Linked DNA regions of Homo sapiens. The protein of the gene in region 2 interacts with the protein of the main gene of each other region in a pairwise test. Each region holds a gene or a part of one and is shown on either strand. Other genes may lie near its edges.

Region 1 (3,500 bases), on a different chromosome or scaffold from region 2:
AAAATTTCAGAAAATAAGAAACTTTTGAAATAGAAAATACGGGTGCTGAAATTTTAATATTCAACTGGTAAAACTGAAGAAATACCCACAAGGTAAAACCAAGAAATAAACAACAACAGAAAAGATAAGAAAAATATATATCAATTGTGCCTGTTTCCCATTTCTCCAGGCAGAATTTTTTTTTTTTTTTTTTTTTTGGTAAGGAGAAGCAGGAGTAAAGGGGAGTACCTGAAATAGAAATGAATCATGTTAAGAAATAGTAAAATCAAAATTAACTTGGTTAATAAGTTTGATTTTGATAAAAGTAAATAGACATGCTATATAGAACAAATGAATGAGTAATGTAAATAACTTAAAATTGAGAGAAAAGCTCTCTTTTCAGGGCTAGCTACAGCTCTCCCACAAAGGGGCTTTTGCATACCACATAACCTGGGTATGAGAAAAAGTATGGGCAGAGGGCAGTGTTGAGTTTTTGTATCTGTAACTTAAGGTAGTGTTCAAAATGTCCTACAAAGTTCCTTCCAGCTGTAAATTCTTTATATCTAATTCCTACCTCCTTCGTGGAGCCTGTTTTTACTACTCCAGGTACATCAGATTTCTGAAACCAAAAAATGAATGCAATTTAAATGTGGCTAGAATTGACTAGCAAGGCCTAGATCTTTAAGTAATAATAATATATTTTGTAACGATTAATTACATTAAGATACATATTCAAAGTATTTGTATACCCTGGAAGCATAAGTCTGAGGATTATGAGTTCTGGGGGCTCAAGCCAATTCCGTCATTAATAAATCACGTTACTGTGAGCAATCATATAAGCCGCGAGGCTCAGTATCCACATCTGTATAAACAGGCTAAGGAGATAATCTTTAAGATCCTTTCTAGTTCTACATAGTTTATGATTCTAAACAAATATATGACTAAGGGAACTGGTTATTAAATAGACCTCTTAAAATTGGTTGCTGACATTTTGATGCTAGTAAAGGATAAAGGGGAGTTACAAAATACATACAGAATTAAAGCAGAACAGCTTACCCTTCCATTCTTACAGATATAATCAAATAGCTCTCCTCCTGAGACATATTCCATCACCATGAAAATATCAGATGGTGTACTGATGACCTGGTACCTGGTGAGAGAAAACATTGTCTACAAATATTAAAACACATATATTCATTCATTCAATAAATATTTACTAAGCACCTATAGTATACCAGGTACTAGGCTAGGAGCTAGAAAAACTGCAGGAAACAAAAATTCTCTGCTCTCATGGAGTTCATGTTCCAGGAACCAGGAAACAGACACTAAATAAATAAGCAATATCTCAGGTGGTGGAACATGCTATGAAGAAAAATAAAGCAAATGAAGGGGAATCTTTGTATACAGAGTGCTAAAGGAAAGCCTCTAATAAAGTAACATTTGAGCTGAGCCTAAAAGAAGAATGGGAACAAATTATGTAATTATCTAGGAGGAAAGCGAAACTGGGAGAGGGAATAGCAACTGCAAAGGTCCCCAAGTAGAAGCCTGCTTGGCATGTTCGAGGAATATTAGAGAGAAATAGGATGTAGAGTCAAAGGTGTTAACTGCAGGCCAGAAGACACAGAATTTTACAAGCCATGATAAGGCTTTGGCTTTTACTCCAAGGAAGATGAAAAGCTATCGTACGTTTTAAGCAGTCATGTGATCTGGCATATTAAAAGTAAAACTATGGCAGCAATGTGAAGAATTAACTGTCAACAGTAAAGGTAGCCACAGGAGGTTACTTCAGGATTTCATGAGACAGATGGTGGCTGAGACCAGGTTGACAGCAATAAAGGAACTGAGAAGCAATCAAATCCTAGCTTGATTGTGAAGGAAGAAATGAAATGCATGGTAGAAAGTGAAAGAAACAGGGAAGTTAAAAATGGTTCCTAAGTTTTAGCCCTGGGTCATTGGCTGTTAGCCAAGATGGTGAAAACTGTGGGAAGAGCAGGTTTGGGAGAGTAATAAAGAGTTCATTTTGGGCCGGGTTGAGTTTTAAATGTCTTGCGAACATCCAAATGGAAATGTAAAGTCAGCAGTGAGCAAATAAGTCTGGTGTAAGAAGAGATCTTAAAGCAAGAGATGTACATTTAGGGGTGGTCAGCATATGGATGGTATTTAAAACCTAGCACTCAACAAATGAGAAGAGGTAAGAGTGAAACAAGTTTGAGTCAGCCAGTTCAGGAGAAAAACCTAAGCATCTTTAAGTTATTGCCTGCATAACAAAGCAGAAGCTGAGCAGGAAATAGTTATTTGTAGACTCTATAACTGGCAACTGTAAAACAACAGTAAGATTACTGCCCTTTTGAAACCTTGGATTCCTGAAATTTTGTTATCTATATGTTCAGGTATAAGCAGGATGGGGAAAAACCCTTTCTACTACCGCATTCTCACTAGTGAGGCTAACTGACATCATGTGGGCATTTGGAGGTCAAGAGTTTTTACTAGCAGATCACTGTTGGTTTTACAGCAATGGGGCACCAAACATTACCAGAAGAGCATCTTTCCAGGAGACAGGAAAGAATGAGAAGATAACAGCTGATAAGCACAAGGGCAAAACATGAACACAGGCTTAAATGACCATCAATGGGGTTAGAAAAATACATGAATGGGAAGAAACTTTTATTTTTTTTTGGGACAGAGTTTCGCTTTTGTTGCCCAAGCTGGAGTGCAATGGCACGATCTCAGCTCACTGCAACCTCCGCCTCCCAGGTTCAAGCCATTCTCCTGCCTTAGCCTCCCGAGTAGCTGGTATTACAGGCGCCCACCACCATGCCCAGCTAATTTTTGTATTTTTACTGGAGACAGGGTTTCACCATGTTGGCCAGGCTGGTCTCGAACTCCTGACCTCAGGTGATCCGCCTGCCTCAGCCTCCCAAAGTACTGGAATTACAGGTGTGAGCCACCGCACACAGCCTAGGAAGAAACTTTTCAAAACCCTTAGGAAACAAAAAGAAGTGTCAGTCATTTTTCTCACTTGTCACATTAAGTAGGTTAACAAAAAAGATGAAAAGATGACTGGACTATATTTAATATAAACAGAGCTTACAGTTTAATTATATGAGGATGCCTGAAAAGCTTGAGGTTCTGAATTTCTCTGCGGATTTTTCCTACCACATCAAGGCTCCGAATCTTCTGTCGATTGAGTATCTTCACAGCTACTTTATGCCCAGTCAATTCATGTTTGCCAACTGTAAAAGAAGTAATTTAATAAATTAGTACTAAGTATGATTAATAATATATTTACACATATTCTGGCCCGGTGCAGTGGCTCATGCCTGTAATCCCAGCACTTTGGGAGGCCGAGGCGAGTAGATCACTTGAGGTCAGGAGTTCGAAACCAATCTGGCCAACATGGCAAAACCCCATCTCTACTAAAAAATACAAAAATTAATGGCCGGGAGCGGTGGCTCATGCCTGTAATCCCAGCACTTTGGGAGGCCGAGGCGGGCAGATCACCTGAGATCAGGAGTTCGAGA
Region 2 (3,500 bases):
TTATTCTTGAACTTTGATATAAACATGAAATAGGAAAATCACTGGGGGACTATAATATAAAGTACTCAAATATAAGAAAAGTAATTGCTATGAGTTCAACCCCCCACCTAAGCCAATTTTTAGTGTTACAGTCTTCTTGCCAATCTCCTAAATATTAAGATCTATACGGTCAAGCATAATTTCTCAGGATTTTCTATATAATGAAAAACTGATTTGAAAAATTAGTTTAAACCAGTTAACACTAAACTTAGTTATATAAACTAATTTAAACTAATTTTTCAAATCAGTTTTTTCAAAGATGTATGTATTTAATAATAGAAATTTGCAGGTAAACATTATTTGTAGTCAAAGTTGAGTATCATGCAAATGTTATTTTACATGAAAATAAGCATATGAACATACTTTATTTTCCTAGGCTGGATTCTGCTTTTATTTCTTTAACTTTAATAAACATGGTTTCATCATAAACAATAAGGTTAAATTTGTGCCTATCTGAATTTTCATAAAGTCTGAATTCTTAACAATTCTAATGTAGCATGTAAGAAAATGAGTTTTTACTGAATTTAAAATATCAAACAAAAAGTGACAAAACCTTTTGGAGGATGGAGTTTGTGGCCGGTTTTCTCACACCACCCAACTGGGTGGATATCCAGAGCGTCTGCATTCACCCAGAAGTCATAGCAATCAGAATACCCATCAAAGTGAAGCTTTATCCGGTATCCACAAACCTGAAACAGGTAAAATAGGTTGAATTATTTTTTTTAACTCAGAATATTCATATATATATATATATACACAAAAATAAACATGGACACCAGGCATGATATAGTCTTAATGTTAATCAAACCACCCACATTAACAGTAATAAAACAACTAAACAAATAACCAGAATCTAAAGACAAAAGCTATTAAAGTGGGAAGAGCTGAGCTGTGGCATTCTGGCAACATTCTCAGTTACATTACAACCACACGGATAGGGGGCAAAGCATAATATCCCACAATTGCAGGTCCTTTCTCCACTCCCTATGTTGTACCAAGATGTGTCCCCAGGGTAAGCTGGAAGGCACACCAGCACAGCACACTCAGCTCTAGCATGGCCCCAGAGTGGACAGTCTGCCCTGCACTGAAGGCTGCAGACCACAGCTGGTGCATATGCACAGAAGTCAAGCTTTTTTTCTCCACCAAAGCTGGGTTGGAAGAAAGAAAGAAAAGCGTCTCTCCTAGTTTATTACTTGGATGAGACAGGCTCCTAAGAATGCTAGTAAGAATGTACTCTGTATAACACATGCCATACATATGCCTACAGGGCCCCACTTAGAGACATTCTGATTTAGAAGGTCATATAGGCTTACGAGACCTGAGTTGGATCATACCCTGCCCTGGATTCTTAGAGAGAGGGTTCAGCCCCTGAGACTTCTTCCCACTAACACAAGAAGATGTGTTCAAGTAGAAACACGTATCACGCCAGACCTCTACCCGCTCCAGGAGTGTCTGTCCTGCAGAACCCTGAATGATGAACTTAGACCAGAGTGCAGAGCCAGGGCAATTAATCCTCAAATAGTGAGGTAGCTGTACAGTTACTGTCATGGAAAGTTCTCTAAAACATATAGTTAAAATTCAAGTGGTAGAACACATAACACAGAATGAGTTAAGTTTATGAGAAAATTAGACATGTGGGGGTCCACATGTATTTATGGGTATATGATTATGTATACATATGTGTATTATGTGTATATACATAAGTATATGCATTTATATACATACATTAATATACACACATATGCATACATATGTAAACACATAGTAAAAAGAAGTCCGGAGGTATATTTGCCAAAATGTTAATAATGATTTCTTCTAGGAAGTGGTAGTGAAAAGGAAGGGGCAAAATGGGAATGATGGACTTTTCATATTTTCTTTTATGTATCAGCATTTTTTCAATTAGAATGTATTGATATACCACATACATCAAATTTACAACTAAGCTGACTCCCCCCAGAGAGAACAGAGTCTCTCCATACAGCTGAGACTGGAATCCCTGGGAAATACAATCTCTCAGGTAAAGCAGGAGCTACCCCCACTCCCTACAGCCACCCCATGCAAAGAAGGCTGCTTCTCTCCTCTCTCTCACAGTCAGCTATATCTGGCCGATCCTAAGAGCTCAGCCCTATAGTAATTTACAGCCTCTAGTTCCTTGTGGGCACACCGTTCTGAGCTTCTGCTCCCTTGAGCCAAGCTCTCTCTGTTCTCCCCATAGTCTCTATCTCAGGCTCACCGGAAAGCTATGCTTTGAGAAACAATCTCCTACATCCTCACCCTCCTTGCCCACAGTCATACCTAGCTCGTCCTTCTCAAGCCTTTCCCCAAGGGTGCTCATGTTCCCAACTCTACCTCCCATAGACACAGGACGGGTTGCTGCCTCCCACCACACCATGGATCCTAGGCCAGTTCTCCCCTGCCGAGGCTCGAGCCATATGGCTGAAGCAACTCTCCTCCTCTTCTTCCCCCATGCTAACCACCCAAACACTTAGCCCTGGCTTATTCTCTTCCTTTCCATCTGAGTACTTTCGTCATCCATATGGATGACTTATCCAATACCCTGGCATTTTGACTCCCTTCCTCTCTACTTCAAGCCCTCACTCCCATGAATCTAGTCCCCAACAAGAACTGCTCTGCTTCTTAGTATTAAATTTAAAAATCCAACCCTGGGACACATACTCCTATTCCAGTCTGCAAACCCAGTTACCCCCAGATGCCTCTTCCTCAATCTCAACAGAAACTCTAGTCTCACACTGATCCTTTTACTTCCTCCCTAGCAGCTCTCCTCACCCCAAGCCTTCCTTTCCTAGCAATCATTTAAAAAACATTTTCTTGCCAACATTTTAAAATTTCTGCCCTGATATCCTTTGCAAAATATTTGCCTGGTGACATTCTATCATTTCAGGTATCCATCTTGTCTCCACCTAACCAAGTCTAGTAAATGGTGATGGGAAGGAAAAAATGACATACCGCCAGTCTTCATTATTCACATACTGTATTCCACGTTTGTGAAGTCATCTACTTGCTACAATTTATTTGTAACCCCAAAATAATACTCGCAGTGTTCGTGGACATGCACAGACTGACAACACTTTTGAGTCACTCAACATGCATGTTCCCAGCTGAAGTCAATCAAGAAGGAGCTTTACCTTCCTGTTTCAGTTCTCGTACTGGGAATAAGTGTCTTTTGTGTGGTCCATTTAGTGCCACATATTCTACATTTTTGTGCTTTTCTTGGGTGATGTTACTGTTTAAAATGGCCCCTGACATAGTGCTGAGGTGTTGTTTAGTGTCCCTAAGTGCCAAAAGGTTGTGATGTTGCCTTACAGAGAAGATACTTGTGCTAGATAAGCTTCATCAGGCAGGAGTGATAGTGCTCTTACTTGTGAGTTCAATTTTTAATGAATGAACGATATACATTAAATGAGGTGTCTTTAAACAGAAACACACATAAAACAAGGTTA
Region 3 (3,500 bases), about 110 Mb from region 2:
TTATTGAAATAGAAACTCGGTATGTTATCCCTCTATAATAATCCCCACTCTGTAAGTTTCCTGTCCCCAAAGGCAGTTGTTGCTTTTTAGTACCTTCTGTGGTATAACTTTTCTTTGTGAAAGATACATTTTCCTCGTCACTTTCTGAAGCCAAAGAGAGGGTCAGGGTAGGAAGAAGGAGACACTATTAGTGGTTTCCTATATTTACTGCTTTCCCAGTTATCTTCCATTGTTAAGTCCCATGAACAATGATTAGTAGAAAAAATGCTTTTTAGCAATCGTGAATACAGTCTCTGAAACATTATTTTTAAACTGCTAACAAGAATGAAAATATGCATTAAACCACGTACTTAGTACCTCAAAGAATTCAGGGAAGATTCCCCTTTTTAAAAAACAAAATTGTGAAATCTACCTTCTTTACCTTGCTTTCACCACGTTTTACCTTGCTTTTACCACCTTTCAGGTGGCTTCATGGGAATTTATCAGGGATCTGGTGAGCATAGGCAATTGATTTTGACTCATCCTAGTTACAGCTGTTAGTAGGAAGTAGATGACTAAAAGGGAATTGAAGTTGGCTAGCTTGGGAAAGTAGATGTAAACTGGTCCTACAAATGGAATATTTGTAAAATCAGGTTAACTTAGGAAAACCAGCCAGAAAATTAACTATGAGTACTTGAAGCTATTTGCCAAATGGGTCCAAATCCCTAGGAAAGAGGTTAAAGGTATGGATGATATATCTTTGCAGATGGCATTAAAGACAGAAGAGTTAAAGGAAAACTACTGCTTTATATATTTCTGAGAAACCACAATAAAAGCTTTCACCCCGTCTGTCAATCTCCAGGTAATGTTATTTATGCACGTCTAGGCTTAGAGTATTATTTTCTGTTTTCAAGTTAGCTTTACACAGTATAACATTAATCTCAGAATCCATTCTTCCAAGTAATACACAAGGTGGCGATTTATAGAAAAACAAAAAATCCTTTCCTGTTCACAAGGTGGAGTTCTTCAGCCCACAGTGCCATATTTAAGGGTGCTTTGTTTCAGAGGATGATTAGAGTGGCGCCCTTGGTACTGATTATAGTGGAGCTACCTGTAGTGCCCAAGTCTGGGCACTGCATTATATTAAAACTTCCATTTTGGGGTATGTAGTGACTAAAAATTGTCTCCCAGCTTAAACTTGGCATCAACCATATATCTCAGCAGAAGCAAGATTATTGAGTATAGAACCACAGGAACCCGGCACTTTTCTTTTTATAATTGTACAGGAAAAGAGACCCTGCTGAAATAGCACCTATGGTTCTCCATTCTTAGATGAAAATTTCAAGCACTGAGGGCTCTTTCCCAAAGTAGAATCAGTAGGTTGCTATGACTGTGACAGGACATAGTCTCTTACATTATTAAATCCCAAATTTTCTAGAATAAAATAATTTCAGCTTCTTTTTAGAAGCAGCAGCAGAAAATGATGAAGCCTTGTCTGCTCCATTGAGTAGCACTTCTGACTATGGTTTCTCTGGAGTTCTTACATTTCCAACAGTTCACCAACTAAGATGGAATTTGTCTAATGCATGTCTCTGACATGGTGAAGATTGAGAGTTCAGGTCTAACAAAAGCCGCTAAGCATAAACTGCACCCAAAAGTTGGCAGGTCTGTGGAATCATGGACGGAGTGGAACTCAGGCAAAAAAGTGAGGATGATGTGGCCTTGAATTGTCACAATTCAAGGCATATGCTTGGCAGTTCAACACCACTATCTCTATATAGGCGTGTCTTACTGAAATGTCCCTATTTTACCCCTAGGATGGCCATGTTTTATATATTTAAAAGCCCAAATTAATTGGGCATAAATAATTAATTACAGATCACTTAAAGACTTTTAACAGTTCTCTTCATATATGTAAACAAAGGGACAATGTGCACCTGGCCTTACACTATTTCACTAAGTCAGAAAAAAATTAACATTTGTATAATAAATATGAATTGTACTGGGTGTCTACTTTTTGCCAGGCACTGTGCTAAATAGTTCACATGCATTATCATATTTAACTCTTCAAAAGAACCTTAAAGGTGACACTGTTTTTGTCCCTATGTTACAGAGGAAGAAACTGAGTTGAGAGATTAAGTTATTTGCCAATGAACATACAATTTGTAAATAATAGATGCTTTACAGCTGGTAAGGTAGTACTCATATTTTTACCCCCATTGAAAAAAAGGTGAAGAAGTTGCTTCTGGTTAAGTCCTTAGATATTCTTGAGACAGAACTTGGGATCAGAACCAGATAGGTCTGCAACTCTGGCCACCTGAAGACTTTTCAACCTCTTCTTGGACACAGAGTGTTTAGGTGGTCTTTGTTCAGCCAATCACTTAGCTTTCCCCATCCTGTCTTTCCTGCTTAGGGAAAGAATATCAACAAAATTCAAAATTCGAAGACTTACATGGAAGTCTAATATAATTTCGATAAGAAAAACAATAAATCAAACTTTATATTCAGTGCTTAAGACTTTGTATGCATTGACTAGATAAATTTCCTACACCCTCCCAGAAGAAACAGCTCCTTTTTTGAGACGGAATCTCGCTCTGCCGCCAGGCTAGAGTGCAGTGGCGGGATCTCAGCTCACTGCAACCTCCGCTTCCCAGGGTCAAGCGATTTTCCTGCCTCAGCCTCCTGAGTAGCTGGGATTACAGGCGCGCACCACCACACCCAGCTAATTTTTGTATTTTTAGTAGAGACGGGGTTTCACCATGTTGGCCAGGATGGTCTGGATCTCTTGACCGCGTGATCCGCCCCCCTCGGCTTCCCAAAGTACCGGGATTACAGGCATGAGCCACAGCGCCCGGCCAGTAGAAATAGCTCTTAAAAGTGTAGATAACCGGCCAGGCGTGGTGGCTCACGCCTGTAATCTCAGCTACTCAGGAGGCTGAGGCAGGAGAATGCTTGAACTCGGGAGGCGGAGGTTGCAGTGAGCCGAGATCGTGCCATTGCACTCCAGCCTGGGCGACAGAATGAGACTCCGTCTCAAAAAAAAAAAAAAAAAAAATGCAGATAACCAATGATTCAGCATACATTGCAATCATATAAAAAATGCTTCTGAATATGTATATGAGTAACATTTATATTCCTGTAATGAAAAACCTTTTGTGTGCACATAAACTCAAAAGGATATTATTATTCCTGGAATAATAATTTCATGTCAAGGAGAATAAAGTTTTGAAATAACTTGGAAGATGGTGAGGGTAATTTAGTATACTTTAAATACTTAAATACAATGAACTAGATATAATAAACCTGGCTTGAAAGATAGTCTTAGGGACCTGGCCCAACAAACACTGTTAAAATTTTTTAAAAATCAACTTGAAGCTCTCATAATTTCCCATTATCAAAACTACCCCCTGCAAATCTGTGAATCTAATCCAAGAAGTATGTCAATAGCTGGTTGTTTAAGGTTAGGTTTATGAAATAGTAACAGAACTGTGCAGGGGTCAAATATGCTTAAAATATGTCCA
Region 4 (3,500 bases), on a different chromosome or scaffold from region 2:
GGTCATGTCAGCAGGTAGTAAAGCCCCAACAAGCTAGTCCCTGGAAATCTAGGAAGAGGTGGCCAGAACATGGAGACAAGCACTCAGGTCCTGGCCTCAGCATCCTTTTCCTTCAACTCCCAGGAACCTGGAAGGCCTTGCTGCAGCTGCAGTTCTCAAACAGCTCCGTCTTGGGGTGACTCACTGCAAGTATGGCCTCTCCCTGCCGAGGAGCACAAATGAAATTCATTCTAGTCCCAGAAACTGCCACACAATTTCGTAAAATTTGCTTTTTAGGGCCCTTGGCATGTAATTTCATTTATTCATATAAGTCTAGATCAGGGTTCAGTGACAAGGGTCAGCATAGAGCAGGGTTGCAGACTGGTTCAAGGAGGCTTCTGGGTAGGCCCCTCCAGGAGGGATTTGGAGGAGGCTGCCCTGTGGGTGTGGCAGGAGCCACATCTTGTGGAAACTGGGTAGATGGGTGTGTGGCCCCACTCTGAGTGAATGCACCTGGCCCACATGGCTGGGCGCTGCAGCCTGCACTCCACTTCCAGGTGCTGACATATCCTCCCCAGCCATGGTCCTGGGCCTGCTGTGTCCTCACCTCAAGGGCCTCCCGGCTCAGCCTCTGCCCCAGCTCCTGCTCTCTCCTCCCTTGTTCCCAGCTCATCTTGCACTAGGCCACTTCCTAGCCTGCAGGCTGCCTATGGATCTCCTGTTAGCTAAGCAACTTGCCACTCAGGGCCCCCCACACACCTGCATACACCCAAAGGAGAGCAGGTCACTTCCCCAAGGAGCTGTGGCTTCATGGCAGCCACAACAAGAAAGGGGTCCTGGAATCCTGTTCCCAGTAAGGGAGCGCTGGCTCCCAGCACTAGAGTGGATCCACATGGGGCCCTCACTAGGGCAAGAGGGCAGCCCTCCTTCCACAGGAGCCAAGAGCATAGTGCAGGGGCAAGGCAGGGCAGAAGGGGCAGGAGCCCACCCCAGGCCTCCAGGATTCCCCTGGAAGGGGCCAGCCTGGAGGCCTTCACAGCCCTTCCCAATGTGACTGGGTGACCCCAGGTGGAGGCAGGAGTTGACAGCATGGATAGAGACAGGTAAGGCCACTGACCTACATCTGGGGGTCTGCTAAGCCATGGGCTGCTCAAGGGGCTGAAGCCAGCAGTGGTGGCCGGGCCAGCAAGGTGTGTGTGGTGGGTAGCACTGCTGTGGCTTTAATGGAGGCTTGTCTGTGACAGAATACTCAGCAAGGGACACGGGGGACTTTGCTGGCTTCTTCCCGGCCGAGCCCTGACATGCACACAGGTGGACTGGGATCCTTCAGCCCCTGTGAAAACCAGGCCTGGCCCAGCACGACCGACCTGGGAGCTGACCTCAGGGCCCTTCACTCCAAAATTCACCTCAAGTCAGGTGAGACCCATACATCATGGGTCCCCACTCACAAGTTCCAGGTGGGAAGAGGAGCCCCTTACATGGATCTCAGTGAGGGTGGGTGGGACAGGAGCAGCCCAGGCAGATTCGCTGGTGCAGCGCAAGTCTGCTAAGCCTCCTCCCGCATGTTGGAGGAGCCTTGGTGACAGGCCCCAGTGCCTGAGTCCACAACACGCCCAGGCCACAGAAGCCAGGCCAAGCCCCACTGGGTGGGAGGCCCAAAGTCTCTCCCCACTTCTGGGTGGTGAGCCCATCACTGAGCCGTGGCCTCGCATCCACACTACACCAGGAGAGGGTGATGACAGGAGGGGGTCTGCTTCATCATCCGCTCCCTGTGGGACCTGTGTCTTCAGTGAATTAATGAGTTTGGGGCCCCACATCCCCTCAGCTCTCTTTGGAGGCTCTGGGCACCCTGACCCTTGGCCTGGCAGGTGCACCCACTGCCATAGGCATGCGCATAGCCGGTAGTCTTCTCAGTAGGCAGGGCAGGCAGGCACGGCGATTCTTCACAATGGGCAGGCGCCACAGGGCCTCAGATGTCGGCGCCCAGCTCTGCGCACTGCTTGTCTGAGATGTGGGAGGCCAGGGAGTCTATGATGTCCAGCAGCAGCTGCTGGCTCAGCGACCGCAGGGTGGGCAACTTGGAGACCTGTAAGGCAAGCAGGCCGGAAGGAGATGGGACCAGATCCACCTAAGGGCCATGGTGGGCAGTGGAGCCCTGTGGGGCCTACCCTGCTCAGGGCTCAGGCTGGTCCCAAGGATGAAGCAAGGTGCGGCCAGTGATGGGCTGCTCTGCTTCTCTCACCCCCAGGGCCCACCACTGCAGGGGACCACAGAGCCTGGGCACCCTCCCTGCCTGGGCATGGCCACTGCCAAGGGGAAGCGAGTCCTGAAGGGGAGGCCAGAGCCCTGACCTTGGTGAACTGGTGCACAATGATGTGCAGGCAGTGCCGCTTCATGTCCAGTGCCTGCGTTTTGTCAGCTGCCTCCAGGATCTGCAATGGCAGGGACCTTGAGGCGCTGCCCCTTTCACCCACTCAGTGGGAGCTGCAGCCATGTGCACGGGGCTGGGGGGCTACCTGCAGCACGTTCTGCACCGTCACGTTCATCTCCAGGTTCTGCTTGCAGTACGCCTGCAGCCGGTTGTTGTAGAAGCCGTAGTAGTAGGGGGCCGCAAACAAGTAGCTGGGGCCTGGTTAAGGAGCTGACTAAAGGAAGCTGGTCCGCCCGCACCCTCCCAGGGAAGGACAGGGAAGGGCGCAGCTGGAGCCCCAAGCCCCCACGCCAGCATGCTCTCCAAATGGATTCTGAACTACTTAGTGGGTCAAAGGCCCCATTCAGGATCCAAAGAAAACCATGAATCCCCTCCCGAGAAAAATAGTGTCTGTACATCTGTAGCGCTGTTCCATGGCCTTGCAGGCCTAACAGGCATCCTGACCCTCCATGTTCAGACCCCTACTGAAGTGACATAAGGAGTACCTCCATGTCTGTGCTCAACTGTCACACAAAGCAATGACCCACCCCGTCCTCTGGGCAGTTGTGAGGGTCAGGAACCCACTGGTTCCTCCTGGCTGCAAACCCCTCCTTGCCAGCTGCCAACTGCTTCAGAGAGCACCAGGCCCAGCCCCAGGCACCAGCAAACCCTCTGGAGGGAGGCGCTGGGCCCAGATCACCTAGCTGGGGCAGGAGAGCGGGCCTCAAAGCCACCTGAGGTGGGTGCCAGGACCCCTTGGTGGGGACCTGGGAGTTCACTGGGGAGTGAGGATGCAGCGAGTCCTCGGGCGGCATGTTGACCTCGCCGTAGTAGATGTAGCGCAGCATGGACTCGAAGGCCTGCCTGCTGGGCACCATCTCCCCGATGGAGATGTTCACCTGCCCATCTTCGGGCATGAAGGACCGGAACATGGCTTCAAAGTAGCTGCAGACAACGAGCGGTAGGCACCTGGCCGTCAGCAGAACGAAGACACCATCCAGGCCCACCCTCCCCTCCTGTCCAGCCCCCACCCACCTGGAGCGGGCGGCCAGGATAGCCTTGTGGGCTGGCCGTGGGTGCCCGTCAAGCAACAGAGTGATGTCACAGAATT
Region 5 (3,948 bases), on a different chromosome or scaffold from region 2:
CAGTGTGGCCCCAGGGCTGCTGGTAGAGGGGTGACCCCAGCGCAGGCTCAGTAAGCCTGGGAGACCAGGCAACGAACAGACCTGCATCTTTCTTTGAGGGTTCAGAGGGGTGGGGGCTCTCAGGCTCAGCAATCCTGCTGCCTGCACAGGGGCTGGAGGTGCTCATGTGAGCACTGCGGCTTGGGAGCCACATCCTGAGAGCCCCCGTGTGGCTGCAGAAGCCATGAAGCCAGGTTCTGTATGTGGCAGCCCAGGTGTGATACGTGATCAACAGCAGGGGCTGGAGAGCTACACCAAATCTGGGCCACTGCCAGCTTTTCTAAATCCAGTTTTATTCAAACACAGCCATGTGGGACAGAGGCTGTATGGCTGGCAAAACCTAAACTATTTGCTACCAGCTCTTGAGAGAAAAGGTTAGCCAACCCCTGATCTACACCATGCCACATTGTAAAATGTATAATGCACACACTGCAGGGCACGCTGAACAGGCCACACAAGGTACTGTCCTGACGGGAGTCGTCCTGTCCTCTCTCCTACTCCGGACACAGCATTTTGGATAAATGAGAGATGCGTGGGGCCCCAAGATGGTAGCCCTGGAAAGTAGGAGCTGGGCAGCGGTGGGGGATGGGGTGGGGGCTGTAACTGCTCTGCCTCGGGTTACAGGTGGAGAACCTGCTCAGGGACGTGCAGGGCCAGGGTCACCAAGGGAATCAGAGTTCTGGGGGCAGCTCAGCCCTTTGGACTTTCCCTTGACTTCCAGATCGGGGCTCCTCCTTCCCTGCAGGGACCTGGGCCGCACGCAGACCCACCCTGCTTCCATGCCTGCCTGATTTCATTTTCCAAATATTTATGAGTCCCACTGTGTGCCAGACACTGTGCGAGGTTACAGCCGGGAGCTGGAGACCAGGCCCTTCAGGAATGCACACTTCTTGCCAGTGAGACTAGAAGTACATTCACAGGGTCTTTTCTGAGAGCCAGTGCTAAACACTGTGAAGAAAAAGACTGGTGCGCCCAGCAGGGCAGGGCCTGGGAGGACGGTGGAGGTCGAGGAAGGAAGGCCTTGGGAGGAAGTGAACTCACTCCAGCCTGAAGTCAGCTGTGCAAAGATCTAGGGGCAGAGCTCCGGTCCTGGGGAGCAGCTCAAGGTGGAATGGGTGAAGTCAGGCTGCGGAGGAAGGAGCGATGGGGCAAGGAGGACAGATGAGGTTGCAGTGCCGGCAGGAGACATCCTGCAGGCTCCCAGGCCAGCGTGAGGATGTGAGGTTTTCTCCATGTGCATTGAGACTGCAGCATCAGGCGCCAAGCCTCCTCTCCCTCCAGAGGGGCCGCCCCTGGGCTCTGTCCAGCCCTGTGATTCCTGGAAGGCCCTCCTCCGGGAAGAGACCGGTAATGAAAAACAAAGCAAAACAAAACTGGAAGTGCCGCCGACTGAGCACTTAGAGCTCACCAGGCACAAAGTTAAGCATATTACGTTCATTATTTCACTTAATCCTCACAAAAGCCCCCTTGGGGAAGGTACTTCCACCACATCAAAGTCACTGCCCAAGGTCCCTGCTGAGTGATCAGGAAGCTCGGCTCCAAAATAACCATGAGCTGTGGAAAGCTGCACTCAACCAGAGACCAAATCAGAACTCCAGAAGTCAGAGTCCAGCGGGTGTTGCCTGCGCTCCAAATGCCTGATGCCCACCCCATCCCGAGCAGGTCCGTCAGCTTGGCTGGGCTGTCCCACCCTCCAGGCCACACTGGCCAATCCCCCTTCCTTCCTCGGGGTGGGCTGGGTTGGGCAGGTCCCCTAGTTCACCCAGGGCTGCCTGGCCTGTGTTTTGGCAGCCCGGAGGGCTGACGTGTGCAGGGACGCAGGCCGAAGTCAGAGAGTCATCTCAGCTCACAACAGACTCCAGTGGGAACGACGCTGTGCAGAGGGACGATCCCAGCGCATTAGGGGACTACCTCCCCACCTCCTTGGCCTCTGACCCTCTCTGGCCAGGAGATACCAGAGGTGTTCAAATTCCAAAGGAGTGCTCCCCTTGGGCTGCAGAGATCAAGTTTCAGCGTGGCTCGGAACCTCTCTGCTTTCCCACCTGCAAAGAGGCTGACCACACCTCTGCCCTACACGGCCCGCCAGGTGTTGGGGAAACGAGAAAGGAGGGAGATTCCAGGCCGCCTCTCTCTGCGGGCCTGCTCAATAGTTTCCTCTCTGAGATGGGAGCAGTGCCCGACCCTGTTTCCCTTGGCAGCTCCCACCAAGAATCACAAACTCAACTGCTCCAGAGGAACTGGGACCCCAGCGCCCCCCGCCGCGCCCCTGCCCAGGGGGACAGTGGTCCCATCCAGGCCTCCAGACTGCAGACTGGGGCTGAGAAGAGAGGTCCCGGCGGCCACACGAGGCCAGGATCCCGGAAACACCACCAGCGACCGGGTGCGCTGAGACCCCTGCAGTCCCGGGTGGCCCGCGACCCCCTTACCTCCACCAGCTTACATCTGCGCGTTTCCCCGGGGATTCCGCCTCGGACGCTCTGACCCCTGACCGCTCTCCCCAGGCTCCCTGCAGGTTCACCCCGCAAGCCGCCCAGGAGCGCCCTTCCCAGGCCTCTTCTTGGGCTGGAGTCAGCGGCACTGCGCCCCGCCGGCCCAGGAGCCGCCAAGACCGCGCGGCGGGAGAGAGCTCGCTTGTCCGGGGGTGGTGATGGGAGACTCGCCTCATGCGCCTGCCCCGCGACCCGCAGCCCGGCCGGGGGACGGTGGGGGGACTCACCTTCTGCGCCGGCCCCGCGCCCAGCCCTCGAGTCCACACCGCAGTAGCCCGGGTCCCCGCCCGCTCCGCCCGGGTCCCGGCCAGCTCCGCCGGACACGCCCCCGCGGTGGCTCGGCCAATCGGAGCCCGGGAAGCGGGAGGGGCGGGGCTTGGGCGCGGCGCTCGGAGGGCGCCCGAGCTTGTGCGCGCTGCAGGTCCGGGGCTGGGCGGGACTGTCGCCCGTGTTTGACCCCCTGGCCCCGCCCGGCTTCCCTTTCCGCTCGCCGCTGCCCCACGCGGAGCGCGACTGCCGTCACCCGGTGGGACTGCGACCCTGGCCTTGGGCAGGGGTGGGGTGGGGGCGCCCGCGACTGCGAGACCTGCGGGACTTGGCGGGGAAAGGGGCAGTGGGAGGCTTGTGCCTTCTGGTGCCTCCGGCGGGCCTCACAGCACAGTCACCCTCAGCGGTCAATAATCGTAATATGAAAATGCAGCAGCACTTTATAACCTTTTTTTTTTTTTGAGACGGTGTCTCCCTCTGTCGCCCAGGCTGGAGTGCAATGGCGCGGTCACGGCTCACTGCAGCCTGCACAGAAATCATCCTGACCCCAGGAGAATTAGCCCACCAGGACCGGCTAGTTTTTGTATTTTTGTACAGACGGAGGTCTCACTATGTTGCCCAGGCTGGTCTCGAACCCCTTAGCTCAAGCCATCCTCTCGCCTTGACCTCCTAAAGTGCTGGGATTTCAGTAGTGAGCCACCGCACCTGGCCTATTTTAAGCTTTTTATAGTGGAAAATTTCAAACTGAAGGAAAGAGAATAGTCCAGGGGACCCTGGTGCCCGTCACCCAGGTCCAACACTAGCAGCAAGTTATGTCACCCCTGACTCAACCGCACCTGAGCCTCCTGTGCGGCTCAGAAGGAAATTCCCAGGCCTCAGTGCCCGGAGGCCTTCCTGGCCCTCCCTGGCCTCCTCCCCACAGGTCCTCTCAAATGGGCTTCTTCCTGTTCCTTAAAGCCTCAGGCCTTTGCTTCTACCTCCATCAGACCTCAAACTGTCACCTCCTCAGGGAGGCTGCCCTGGCCACCCAAAGCGGTTCCCTGTCTCCACCCCATCTCCCTCCACAGTCACCCGTGTTTGTAATTTTGCAAAGCATCTCCCAACCCAGAGTCCTCTCCTGAGGCCGCTCGTGGGATTCAGGGCTGCCTACCAG
Region 6 (3,500 bases), on a different chromosome or scaffold from region 2:
CTTTTTCTGGCTGGCAGCAGAATGAGAAGTTTGAAAGATCTAAAGTGTAAGAAAGACTAGTCATATCACTGCTTTGAAAACAGAAAGGACCATGAGCCAAGGATTGCAGGTGGCCTCTAGAAGCTGAGACTGACTCCTGGACGACAGGCAGCAAGGAAACAGGGACCTCAACCACAGAGAACCGGATTTTGCCAATAACGTGAATAAGGCTGAAATCTAATTCTCCCCCAGAGATGCTAGTAAGGAATACAGCCCTGTTGACAATTTAATTCTGGCTTTGTGGGACCCTGCACAGAGGACCCAGCCAAGCCCATCTGGATTTCTGACCTATACAGCTAGGAGATAATGGATATTGTTTTAAGCCTCTGAGTTTGTGGTAATTTGCTATGCAGTTTCTTTCACTCAACCTTGTTTGTGAAAATCACCCTTGCAGTGCTGGCGTGTAGCAGCAGTTCATTCCTCCTCTGTACTGTATAGTATTCCACAGTCTGAACACATCATGATTTACTCATCCATTCGACTATGATGAACATTTGGGTTGTTTCCAGGTTTTGGTTACTACAGAGTTGATATGAACATTCTTATACCTTTCTTTTAGTTAATATTTATACATTTCTTATATACAGCAAGAGGCAGAAAGAGATAGAGACAGGCATGGAACTGCTATGGCATAGGCAATGCATATGTTCTGCTTTAACAGATACTGCCAGTTTCCCCAGTGGCTGTGTCCATTTACACCTTCACCAACAGTAAATCAGTGTTCTCACTATTCCATGTCCTACCATCACTTAGTATCACCCTACCATTCCGGTGGGTACACAGTGAGATCACATTGTGCTTTTAATTTGCATTTCCCTGTTTACTAATGAAGTGGGACAACTTTTCATATGTTTACTGGCCATTGGGAGGCCCTCTTTTTGGAAGTCACTCACCCATTATCCTGAGGAGTTGCTTATCTTTCCATGTTATCCTTAACAAAAAAGTTTTCTAAAAAATTTAAGTATATAAATATTAGGAAAAAAATGTTTGCAGATTTGGTGAAAGGAGTACACTGTTAAGATAAAATTATAAATATCTGATAAAGTCGATTACATTAAAATTTAAAACTTCTAAGAGCTACCACAAAAGACAAGTGACAGATGAGAAAAAGTATCTGCAATATTAAGAGAAGACTGTGCATCCGAAATACATAATATATAAAGAAGACCTAAATGTCTATCAAAAAAAAAAAGAAAAAGAATCCAACAGAAAAATGGAGCAACAACATAGTCAGGAAGGGAAACAGAAGAGGAAATACAAATGAGCATTTTGTCATACAAAAACCTATAAGATGATACTATTTTCACCTATAAAACTAGCAAAAATCTAAAAATGTGGGTGAGACTGTTAATAAAAGGGTATTTTTATATACGGTTGGAGAAAATGAAAATTGGTAGTCTTTTCTGGAGAGCAATTTGATAGTATCCATCAACATGTTAAATGTGCATACTCTTAGACACAACAATTCCATTTCAAAGCAGCATACAAAAATATGCCTTTGTATACAAGTCTATATGTGCAAAAATATTTACTACAGCACCGCTCACTGTACAAGAAATTTTAAAACAATCCAAACACCCCTTGACTTGGGAATATTATCACATAGCCCTACCACAGAATAGTAAGCCAATAAAACCAAGGAGGCAAACTCTGTGTCTACTCACAAATAAAGACATCTGTGCTGAACAATATACAATATATATCCCATTTTTGTAAAAACAATTAACAAAATTCCAAATATTTAGGTACATACAGATGTACAGACATGATTAAAAGTGGGTGCATCTGGGGATGGAGCAGTAGCCTGCTGCTTTCTATTTGCTCTTTGAACCATTAGCATGTATGAACTCTGATGAAAAACTAACAAAAATGTCATTCACCCAAGAAAAATTTTTACTGAGCACTTATTATGTGTCAGGGAACTGGTAAATACACCAATCAATAACATATCAGGGAGTGCTAAGTACTTTGAAGGAAAACAATACAAGATAAACAGTACAAGTGAAACCAAGAAATGCTGACAGACAAGTCATAGCAGGTCCCTGGGGGAGCTAACAATCAGAACTGAGAACTCAAAGGATTGAGTGTGAAGAACACAGAAGTAGAAATGTGGGGCCACACTGGCAGGTTCCAGGAACAGTTAGGGGGCCACCATGGCTACAGCAGAGTGAGCAAAAGAATGAGCATAAATGAGTGCTGAGAGGGAGTAGGGCTGTCCTGTGGAAAGGACACCTCTGTATTCCACCCTTGGTGACAGGGAAACCACTGGGGTCTTGAGCAGAAAAGCGGAATCATCTGACATGTTTTAAAAGCACTACTCTGGCAGCTTAAGCAGAAGAAAGAGCTAGAATAAAGGTTCTGAGGCAGGGCCATTCCCAGCATGCTCTAAGTCTGGCAAGAAGTCCAAGTGTGGCCAAGCGAGGAAGTAAGAGAAGAACAGAGAGACTGGACACGGTGGCTCATACCTGTAATCCCAGCACTTTGGGAGGCCAAGGTGGGCAGATCACCCGAGGCCAGGAGTTCGAGATCAACCTGGCCAAAATGGCAAAACCCCGTCTCTACCAAAAAATTTAGCTGGGCATGGTAGCACGTGCCTGTGATCCCAGCTATTCAGGAAGCTGAGGCACAAGAATCGCTTGAGCCCGGGAGACAGAGGTTGCAGTGAGCTGAGATCACAACACTGTACTCCAGCCTGGGCAACAGAGTGAGACTCTGTCTCAGAAAAAAAAAAAAAGAGAGAAGTAACAGAGAGTACCAGGATGTATAGGAACTTGTCAGCCACTCAAAGAACTTGGACTTTTCCTCGGAATGTGATAAGAAACCATTCAAAGATTTTGGGCAGAATAATGGAATGACCTGATTGAGATTTCAAAGGATTAATCTGACCACTGTGCTGGAAAGACTTTAGGAATTCCAGCAAGGGCAGAAGCAAGACAGTGAATTAGGGTATTATTATGGGTTAAACAGTGTCCCCAAAAAAGATACATTTAAGTTTTAACCCCTTATACTAGCGAATGTGACCTTACGTGGAAGTAAGGTATTATGGATTGAATTCTGTCTCCCCAACAAAAAATAAGTTGGACTACTAACCCCCAGTAGCTCAGAATGTGACTTTATTTGGAGATAAGGTCTTTCAAAAGGAGAAATTTGGACACATGCATGCACACATGTGAAGATGAAGGCGGAGATCACAGTGATGCTTCTACACATCAACATGCCAAAGACTGTCCGCGAACACCAAAGCTAAGAGAGGAGGCTAGAACAGATTTTCCCTCACAGCTCTCAGAAGGAATCGACCCTGATTCTGGGGCTCATCACGGACTTCTGGCCTCCAGAACCATGAGACAGTCCATTTCAGTTGTTAAAGCCACCCAGTTTGTGGTAATTTTATTATGGCATCCCTAAAAACTAATAGACAGTATTCCCACAGTCCTGGCAAGAGACAAAGGTGGCCTGGACCA
Region 7 (3,500 bases), on a different chromosome or scaffold from region 2:
ATTAGAACCTGTCTGATTTCAAAGTTTGTGCTAATAACTGCTACACGACATCCTAACAGTCTAATTCAGTGCTTCACCACCATTTTGCTATCACAGCACACACAGAAAACATACATTAATAGCGTATACTGAAACACATAGAAAATGACATTTCCAGGTACTCTGGGGGTAAAAGGACCAGGCTGCTCACAGCCATAGGCAACTGAAGAGTCACACCAAAGGCTGAAGAAGAAATTAGTATCTACACAGCTACAAGCTATTCGTGACCCACCAGTGTGCCAAGACTCATCTGCGAACATTCCAGTATTTTTATTTTCCAATTTATACTTTCCCACTACTGATATTATTTCCATACAGCTTTATTTTTATTTTTTCTTTCCAACCTTTATTTTACATTCAAGGGGTACATGTGCAGGTTTGTTACATGGGTAAATTGCATGTCATGGGATTTAGTGTACAGATAATTTTGTTTCACAGGTAGTGAGTATAGTACCCAATAGGTAGTTTTTCAGTCCTCATCCTCCTCCCACTCTCCACCCTCAAGTAGGCCCCAGTGTCTATTGTTCCCTTCTTTGTGTCCATGTGTATGCAATGTTGAGCTCCCACTTTATAAGTGAGAATATACAGTATTTGGTTTTCTGTTCCTGCGTTAATTCACTTAGGATAACGGCCTCCAGCTCTATCCATGTTGCTGCAAAGGACATGATCTTGTTCTTTTATATGGCTGCATAGTATTCTGTGTCCACCCAGCTTTCTGAAGAAAAGTTTTATTTTATTAACCTTAACTTCTTGCAGCCCTTCACCCAGTTTTCTTTAGGCTTAGGGGATATATGCCATTCTTACTTTTATAACCATTATAAAAAGCATTATAGCTCTGGGAAGACCTTTAGGGATAATAAAGCCCCAACTCCCCTTTCTACAGATAAAAAAAATATGCTAACAGAGGTTAAGTGGTTTGCCTAAAGACTCAGTGTTAATATATTGTTGAGCTTAGATGAACCCAGGACTTTTGCCTCTCAATTCTACTAATAACATATCTATTCTACTCAGTGATCTTGTTTCTGGCTGTTGGCTTTGAGCAGTTTGAAAACCCTGCAACTGAAACTCTTTGTTCTAAATCTGTGATCCCCCACTATAAAGAGATCCAAAAGCGACGTAAAATGGATCATTTGGTTCATATACACTTCCCTTTAAAGGATCAGAAAATTTTAAGACCTTAAATGGCCAAACTCGTTCAAGGTGTAGGGTTCCTCTCTCTAGACCATAAGATAAACTTAAAGGGTACTGAGGTTTTGACAGCGTGGCCACAGCATGGCTAAATGTGAATACCCTTCAGCATTTTTCTCTTCCTTTTCTCACTTCTATAAATGTGAATAATTCAGATGTGCTGTTCTAAAGCAACGACGTTTCCTTTATATTAAGGGGCACATTTTCTTGCTGTTTCCATTTTAACTCATCATCACCAATCCCAAAACATATTTGCTCCAGAAAAAAAGGCAAGTTGGAATTTTGGGGAGAAACACTCAAGCAAATTAATCTCCTTTATTATAATTCTAAATAGAAGGTAATGAATGGATAAAATTGGCCAGGCATGGTGGCTCACACCTGTAATCCCAGCACTTTGGGAGGCTGAAGCGAGTGGATCACCTGAGGTCAGGAGTTCGAGACCAGCCTGTTCAACGTGGCGAAACCCCTTCTCTACTAAAAATACAAAAAATTAGCCGGGCGTGGTGGCGGGCGCCTGTAATCCCAGCTACTCAGGAGGCTGAGGCAGGAGAATCGCTTGCACCCAGGAGGCGGAGGTTGCAGTGAGCCAAGATCGCGCCATTGCACTCCAGCCTGGGCAACAAGAACAAAACTCCGTCTCAAAAAAAAAAAAAAAAAAGACTGGGTAAAATTAGCCTGTAAAAAGAATATTAATTTGACCACAAATGACAAATATATCTTTTCCTAGACTTTAAAATTCCAAAAAAGATCACAAGAAGTCTCTGTCTAAATTACAACGGCTATGCTAAGTGAGAAAAGCAGAGTGAAAATTAGTGTGTTTCAGATGACAACATTTAGTTTTTAAAAACATATGTCTGGTATAATAGGCTTGTTAATCATAAATTTTCTCTGGAAGAGAAAAAAAATGGATCAAAATGCCTCTGGGGAGTAGAACTGGGTAGATGAGAGTGAAAGGAAGCTTTTGGTGGACTCCCTCGTTTATCTTTGGCATTTTAAAACCTATAAATGTTGCCACTTCAAAAAATATTTTAAATTATTATTATTTTTTTTGAGACACAGTCTTGCTCTATCACCAGGCTGGAGTGCAGTGGTGCAATCTTGGCTCACTGAAACCTCTGCCTCCCAGGTTCAAGCGATTCTCCTGCCTCAGCCTCCCGAGTAGCTGGGATTACAGGAGCGCACCACCACCCCCAGCTAATTTTCGTATTTTTAGTAGAGACGGGGTTTCACCATGTTGGCCAGGATAGTCTCAATCTCCTGACCTCATGATCCACCTGCCTCAGCCTCCCAAAGTGCTGGGATTACAGGCATGACGCACCGTGCCCGGCCGAAATTCTTTAAGTAAAATTAAAAGAGAGTATTTCGACCAACCTAAAAATGCAAACATTTCCAGTATTTAGGTTCAAATCCTTATCTAAACCTGTAAAGATCTTCCTAGGCCAAAGTATATTTCTGGAGCCCCAACCAACTAGATAGAATTGTGGTTCACTGTTGTTGAGTTAATAAGATGTAATAAATCTATAAACAGTGATGTATAGTATCACATAATATGTATAATCTGTGCATGTGATAACACTGCTTTCAAACAAAAGCTCTAACCTGATCAGTAAAGAAGGGAAGGCCAGGAAGTCACTTTCTGATAACTCAGGTTGCCCCTCCTCTGTTTCAGGTGAATTAACTTCTTTCACAATAACAAATACTGAAAGCTGGTTCAGAGAGAGAGAGAAAAAAATATAGACAGTTAATAAAAATATAAAATACCACTAACTTTCTTCTGTACAGCTACTAAATGACTAGGGGCTGTAGACCCAGGAATAAAATTTGAGGTTTTAATTTCTCTTTTCTTACCTTAGATGAAGAGGGGCAGGGTGTGGGGTTGCGGGGAAGGCTTTAATAAGAGGGGCAAAGGCTTTAAATAAGAATGTAAAAGAACCAGTACAGTTCCAGAAACCATATTCTCATCACTCAACATATGAAATGAGGGTAAATAAGGAGGGAAAAAGAACTTAGAAATAATAAAGGGAACCAAGGGAAGGTGAATGAGGATCTCAAAAAAGAGTTTTATTTCACTTAGAACATTAAAAACCATCACATAAATTTTGAGATGAAATCACCTAACTCAGCAGTTCTAAGTGTAGTCCCAAAATCCTAGGGGGCCCTCTCCCTTTTCCAACTACCTATCTGTATTAAGCTGGATTTTCTCATGTACTTTTACAAAAACAAGATATCCCAACAGACTGAATGCAGAAACAGACGAGAACCCAGTTGTTTTC

Evidence for each region.
Region 1: the proteins of L3MBTL3 (region 2) and PRKAA1 interact in binary tests that used the Homo sapiens proteins (3 or more experiments, as listed by UniProt).
Region 3: the proteins of L3MBTL3 (region 2) and E2F3 interact in binary tests that used the Homo sapiens proteins (3 or more experiments, as listed by UniProt).
Region 4: the proteins of L3MBTL3 (region 2) and LZTR1 interact in a two-hybrid assay, tested with the Homo sapiens proteins (one large-scale study listed by BioGRID and IntAct).
Region 5: the proteins of L3MBTL3 (region 2) and PLEKHF1 interact in binary tests that used the Homo sapiens proteins (3 or more experiments, as listed by UniProt).
Region 6: the proteins of L3MBTL3 (region 2) and VBP1 interact in binary tests that used the Homo sapiens proteins (3 or more experiments, as listed by UniProt).
Region 7: the proteins of L3MBTL3 (region 2) and ZCWPW1 interact in binary tests that used the Homo sapiens proteins (3 or more experiments, as listed by UniProt).

Annotation. Positions count from the first base shown.
Region 1 is NC_000005.10:40,774,375-40,777,874, forward strand, and holds part of PRKAA1 (5'-AMP-activated protein kinase catalytic subunit alpha-1), read right to left. Parts: intron 3,213-3,500; coding exon 3,071-3,212; intron 1,130-3,070; coding exon 1,036-1,129; intron 599-1,035; coding exon of another isoform or gene 554-598; intron 1-553. UniProt on the Homo sapiens protein: Catalytic subunit of AMP-activated protein kinase (AMPK), an energy sensor protein kinase that plays a key role in regulating cellular energy metabolism.
Region 2 is NC_000006.12:130,063,581-130,067,080, reverse strand, and holds part of L3MBTL3 (lethal(3)malignant brain tumor-like protein 3), read right to left. Parts: intron 729-3,500; coding exon 593-728; intron 1-592. UniProt on the Homo sapiens protein: Is a negative regulator of Notch target genes expression, required for RBPJ-mediated transcriptional repression. It recruits KDM1A to Notch-responsive elements and promotes KDM1A-mediated H3K4me demethylation.
Region 3 is NC_000006.12:20,404,879-20,408,378, reverse strand, and holds part of E2F3 (transcription factor E2F3), read right to left. Parts: intron 1-3,500.
Region 4 is NC_000022.11:20,995,797-20,999,296, reverse strand, and holds the end of LZTR1 (leucine-zipper-like transcriptional regulator 1), read right to left. Parts: coding exon 3,425-3,500; intron 3,335-3,424; coding exon 3,185-3,334; intron 2,602-3,184; coding exon 2,496-2,601; intron 2,412-2,495; coding exon 2,331-2,411; intron 2,066-2,330; coding exon 1,949-2,065; 3' UTR 265-1,948; downstream 1-264. UniProt on the Homo sapiens protein: Substrate-specific adapter of a BCR (BTB-CUL3-RBX1) E3 ubiquitin-protein ligase complex that mediates ubiquitination of Ras (K-Ras/KRAS, N-Ras/NRAS and H-Ras/HRAS).
Region 5 is NC_000019.10:29,664,313-29,668,260, reverse strand, and holds the start of PLEKHF1 (pleckstrin homology domain-containing family F member 1), read right to left. Parts: upstream 2,801-3,948; 5' UTR 2,756-2,800; exon of another isoform or gene 2,705-2,755; coding exon of another isoform or gene 2,466-2,704; intron 2,443-2,465; exon of another isoform or gene 1,081-2,442; intron 1-1,080. UniProt on the Homo sapiens protein: May induce apoptosis through the lysosomal-mitochondrial pathway. Translocates to the lysosome initiating the permeabilization of lysosomal membrane (LMP) and resulting in the release of CTSD and CTSL to the cytoplasm.
Region 6 is NC_000023.11:155,229,960-155,233,459, reverse strand, and holds part of VBP1 (prefoldin subunit 3), read right to left. Parts: intron 1-3,500. UniProt on the Homo sapiens protein: Binds specifically to cytosolic chaperonin (c-CPN) and transfers target proteins to it. Binds to nascent polypeptide chain and promotes folding in an environment in which there are many competing pathways for nonnative proteins.
Region 7 is NC_000007.14:100,422,204-100,425,703, forward strand, and holds part of ZCWPW1 (zinc finger CW-type PWWP domain protein 1), read right to left. Parts: intron 2,934-3,500; 5' UTR 2,827-2,933; intron 1-2,826. UniProt on the Homo sapiens protein: Dual histone methylation reader specific for PRDM9-catalyzed histone marks (H3K4me3 and H3K36me3). Facilitates the repair of PRDM9-induced meiotic double-strand breaks (DSBs). Essential for male fertility and spermatogenesis.